2 separate regions of the Homo sapiens genome follow, and region 2 is linked to region 1. The links come from fine-mapping of genetic effects on gene expression. Tissue or cell type: whole blood. Region 1 holds a variant in brackets; the other region holds the start of a gene. All regions are shown on one strand. Distances are between the middles of the regions.

Region 1 (2,756 bases):
CCCCAGACTGGAGTGCAGTAGTGCCATCTTGGCTCACTGCAACCTCCACCTCCCGGGTTCAAGCAATTCTCCTGCCTCAGCCTCCTGAGTAGCTGGGATTACAGGTGTGTGTCACCACGCCTGGCTAATTTTTGTATTTTTAGTAGAGACAGGGTTTCACCACATTGGCCAGGGTGGTCTTGATCTCCTGATCTCGTGATCCAACCACCTTTGCCTCCCAAAGTGCTGGGATTACAGGCGTAAGCCACTGTGCCCGGCCTATCATCTTATAACCTTGTAACTCAGAGACCAGTGGTAATATCTATGTATTTCATTTAAAATTTTCCCACGTGTGCACTTACATAGATTGAATTATTGGCCAGGTGTGGTGGCTCACACCTGTGATCCCAGCACTTTGGGAGGCGGAGGCAGGTGGACCACTTGAGGTCAGGAGTTCAAGACCAGCTTGGCAAACATGGGGAAACCCTGTCTCTACTAAAAATACAAAAAATTAGCCAGGCATGGTGGCTGCATATCTGTAGTCCCAGCTACTCAGGGAGGCTGAGACAGGAGAAGTGCTCGAACCCAGGAAGGGGAGGTTGCAGTGAGCTGAGACTGTGCAACAGCACTCCAGCCTGGGAGACAGAGCAAGACTCTGTCTCAAAAAAAAAAAAAAAAAAAAAAGATTGAATTGTAGAGAGTTTTCCATACTGATACTTTTCATTCAACAACACAGCATGAAATGTTAACATACACTCTTTATAAACATTCACTTTTATCATCACATTTTATCATGGCTACACAGTCCATGATATAGATGTCAAAAATGACCATGCTGTTCCTCTATTATTGACCATTAAACTGTTTCTAATAACACTAATCATACAAACTACCGTTTTCTTAGAATTTATGACTTTTAGCACTGTGCTAGGCACCTTTACATGCATTATCTTATTTATTTCACAATAACACCTCAAGGTAGAGACTGATTTTATCTCCATTTTACAGGAGAAGAAATTAAAGCTCAGAGAGGCGCTTAACCACCCAGATGTACTGCTTTCCACTTCCTTGCTATTGTAACGAACACTGTGGTGAGCAT[C/T]TTTGTACACTGTCCTGTAGGGAACGTGATGCTCTGAGCACCTGTCCCTCCTACTGCCTCTCCCGAGGAAAGCAGGAGCAAAGGGAATCAGGTACCCAACACCTGGGCCACCGCTGCCAGGCCCAGAGACCAGCGCCCCTTCCACTGACTGACTGCAGGCCATGCCAGCAAACAGCACTGTCATTCTGGGCAGTGACTGGCCCAAACAGATCATCTCTCTTAGGAAGTCCGAATGTAAGAAACAGATGGGACCGACATAGCCCAGAGAGAAGGCAGCAGGAAGAAGCCATGAAGAAGAGAGGAGGGGGTCGGGCGCAGTGGCTCACACCTGTAATCCCAGCACTTTGGGAGGCTGAGGCGGGCGGATCACAAGGTCAGGAGATCGAGAACAGCCTGGCCAACAGTGAAACCCCCGTTTCTAATAAAAATACAAATATTAGCTGGGTGTGGTGGCACATGCCTGTAATCTCAGGCAGGGGAATCGCCTGAATCAGGGAGCGGAGCTTGCAGTGAGCTGAGATCGCGCCACTGCACTCTGTCCAGCCTGGCGACAGAGCGAGACTCTGTCTCAAAAAAAAAAAAAAAAAAAAAGGAAGGAAGGGCATGGGGAGAAGGAGAGGGAGACAGAGATAGAGAGATGGGGTGTGGCTCAAAGCAGCAGTGAGAACTACAGGTAGAACAGACTGAGATGCTGGGTCTCAGGAATGGTGGGGTGACTGGTTAGGAGCTCAGGGGACAATGATCAGAGCTGCTTTGGGGACAAGAGTTATGTGATGAAGAGCCATGAGGCACAGCTGTACAGTGGCCGAGACCATTTCCTGGGCTTCCTCCCTTCTCCAAGACCTCCCTACAAGGATCTCCCATCTCCAGAGTTGCCAGTGTTTGTGTCGCCTGAGCAAACAGGTTCCTCTGGGCCTTAGAATACTTCCTTGCTTTCTTCCCAAGGAACCCAGCATGCTCTAGTGCGCAGCTCTGCAAGGAAGCATACTCACCCCCAGAGGCATGAGAAGAAAATATTCTAACTAATGTCTACATAAGAAAGAAAAGCAATTGGCTGGGCATAGTGGTTCACACCTGTAATCCCAGCACTTTGGGAGGCCGAGGATGGGGAGGGGAAGATGGCTTGAGCCCTGGAGTTGGAGAATAGCCTGGGCAACCTAGCAAGACCTCCTCTCTACAAAAAAATTTTTTTAAAAACTAGCCAGTGTGGTGGTGCATGCTATTCAGGAGGTTGAGGCGGGAGGATCACCTGAGTCTGGGAGTTTGAGGCTGCAGTGAGCTATGATAGTGCCACTGCATTCCAGCCTGGGTACAGAGGGAGACCCTGTCTCAAAAAAGTAAGAAAAAAGAAAAAGAAGGAAAGAAAGAAGAGAGAAAGAGAAAGAGAGAGAAAGAAGGAAAGAAAGAAAGAAAAAAGAAAGGAAGGAAGGAGGGAGGGAAGAAGGAAACAGAAAAGAAAAGAAAAAAGAGAGATTAAGCATACTCATATGCATTGTAGTGATTGGCAACAGAATAAGTATATAATTTATAAACAGACACGTTTCAATGAGGGTTTGTGATAAAAATTGCACACCAGTAGGATATGTGATCAAAACAGTCTGAAGACCGTTGCTCTGGTAGAAGGAATCTAGGTTTTGCAGTGAGGTTGGGCTAGGGTTCCTAGCTCAGCTCAGACACC
Region 2 (2,628 bases), 320 kb before region 1:
TTACTCCCCGAACACCATCGCCTACCCCTGAGCCGGGGCCCTTGTCCCTCGGACGATTAAAATAAAAATTGAAGGGACATCATAGAAACGAAGGCAAAGGAGACCCAAACACAGGCATTGCTTGGAAGCAACTTGAGACACTTGTGTCCCCTTCTCCTCTCTCCAAATCCTTCTCCAGGAAGGAGGCTATGCCAGGAAGAAAATATGCAAGAAAACTAAGGGAAAAGTTGGGGAGGGGGCTCACCCCACTTCGAGTTAGGGTATTAACAAGAGCTTGGGAATCCTCTAACGACACCCAGACACTGTTTTGCGTTCCTTAGAGACTTGCAAGACATCAATCTCTCACACAAAAATGGGAGAATCCGATCCGACAAATAACCCCCACCCCTTTCTTTCTCTCCACAAAGAAAAACAAATCAGTGGCCTGGTGACCACACACCTCTTCACCTTAGGACCCCCAAACGCCCGTCATCCAACGAGCGGGCGCAGCCTTGCGAACCCCCAGGTCCGGGCGCCGGGGCCGGGAGAGCAGGGGGCGCCGGTGATTGTCCGATGAAACGCTACGCGGGCCCGAATCAACAGTATCCGGCGCCCAGCACCCCAAGCCCCCTCCCTCAGCGTCCCCAAATCACAGCCGGGGTGGCCGCCTGGCCGGCCGGGGCCTCGGAGGGCCCAGCGGGGGGAAGCGGAGGCAGGCCGGCCGGGGGGCCTCCCCCGCGAGCCTGCAAAATAACAGGCCCCCTCCTCCTCGTCCCCAGCCGCGCCTTTGTCCTCGCCGGGCCGAGCGGGCGGCGCCCGGGCTGCCCCCCCTACACCCCAGCGCGAACGCGCGTGTGTCTGCCCTCCCTTCCCTCCCTCTCCAGCAAAAACAAAGAGGCTGAGGGAGCCCGATTCCCCCCAGGTTTGCACCCTTCCGCGGGCCCGCGGCCCCCCGATATTTACCCCGCCGGGAAGGCGCCGATGCCGGGCCACTGCTCGGGGGGCTGCCGCGGGCGGGGGCGGCCCGCCGGGGCGGATGCCGGAGGATTCGCGGAGCCGCCCGGCGCGCCAGCCTCTCCCGGCCCAGCCGCCGCCGCCGCCGCCGCCGCCGCGCTCCGCTCGGCCCCGGCCGGGCTCTGGCTCTGGGCTCTCGCCGCCGCCGCCGCCGCCGCCGCCGCCTCCCTCCTCCCGGCCTCCTGCCCGCCCGCCCGCCCCCGCCGCCGGCTCGCGCGCTCTCGCACCGCGCGCGCCCGCCGGCTCCCATTGAGCCCCGGGCCCGCCCGCTGATGTCATCCCCGGCCCGCCGCCGCCGCCCCGGAGGATTTAAAGGGCCCGCGCCCTCCGCGCTGGGGGCCGCAGCTGCGAGACGCAGTTCCCCAGCCTCAGTGCAGGCGCGCGGGCTTACGCGTGGGGGTGGGGGAGCACACAGATACTGACACCCTAATGCAGTCCAGGGCACAGGTGGAAAAGACGGGGTGCGGGGGGGACAGAGGGAAGAGGAGGGCGCACAAAAAGCGGAGGTGAGGGGATGGGAGGGGAGGGTCTAGACCCAAAGTCTCCTCTCCCCGCCTGCCAGGATCTCTCTCCTCTCCAGGCAGAGCACTGGGCCCCTGCGAAAACAGGCGGCTATTCACGACACTGCAAAAGATGTTAGACTGCTGGAGGCTCAGTCCGCCTCCAGGTTCCGAGTGCCGCAGAGAACACAGGCCAGGTTGATTCAGGGCAAGAGATTTGAGGAGACAGCTAGGGATGTCGACACAAGGCCCAGAAAGGTAGCCTGGGCTCATACATTCTCCTCCCGTGGAAAAACGAAGGGCAAAGACCTCTTCTTCTTTTCCCTGAAGCTCAAACTGTGATGGGCACAGAGAGGACCCCTCAGATCCCAACCTCATTCTCCCCTGTTGAAGGAGGGGTGCCACAAGTACCAAAGCACCGACACTTGAGTCTGGGCTCCGAGTGGTGCACGTTTAGCCAAGCCACCTCCCAGCTCTGAGCTTGGGTTTCCTTAAACAGCAAATGGGAGGAAGGACCCTGTCCTCCCCAGGTCACAGAATTAATAAAAGCTTCTACCGGCATGCAGAGCCGCGATGAAAGGTTGCAGAACAAAGTCATTAAAGTGATGATATTTACACTGAGCCATGCAAAGCTTCCAATTATGACACACCTATATTCACACAGTTGTGACTGTGGACACGCAAAATGCCTGAGGCCCTGCGTCCAATCCCGGAAGCACAGTTCCTGGGAGGAGTCACTTCTATAATAGCCGTATCTTCCCTCCTCGAGGCTGAGGGACTGAGTCACACACGTGTCCAAACGGGCAGGAGCCCCACAGACTAAGTCCTTTCGCCGGCCAGGAAACTGGCCCAGAGAGGGGAAGGGCTTTGCCCAGGACCACAAAGCCCAACAGGACAGCTCTGTTCTCCCAGCGATCACCAGGAAACTGGGTCTATCTAGAGCCCATTTCCAAGAGCAGGAGAGTGAGAAGCCTCCTCCCAGGAGGGCCTGCCTTCAGTGACACCTTTGCCAGAGCAGGGGGTCACCAGCCAGGTGGTGGGCTTTACTTGGCCTGCGCGGTGCTTTCTGTTGTTGTTTTGTTAATTAATCCCCAAAGTTTTTTTTTTTTTTTTTGCTTTTTGTTTTTGTTGGTTT

The links. PIP is the estimated chance that this variant, and not a neighbour inherited with it, causes the effect.
Region 2: CSNK1E starts here. The variant in region 1 is fine-mapped to the expression of CSNK1E in whole blood (TOPMed, PIP above 0.99).

What each region holds. Positions count from the first base shown.
Region 1 is chr22:38,633,581-38,636,336 of GRCh38, forward strand. The region is part of intron 6 of FAM227A (family with sequence similarity 227 member A); the gene reads right to left. Among named protein-coding and RNA genes, the nearest start is that of FAM227A, 21 kb to the right of the region's middle. The variant C/T (reference allele first, on the strand shown) is at 1,079.
Region 2 is chr22:38,316,218-38,318,845 of GRCh38, forward strand. CSNK1E (casein kinase 1 epsilon) reads right to left here and starts at 1,216. Exons shown (of 11, transcript NM_152221.3): 1 at 943-1,216. The region is part of intron 5 of TPTEP2-CSNK1E (TPTEP2-CSNK1E readthrough); the gene reads right to left. RefSeq lists a silencer at 544-933.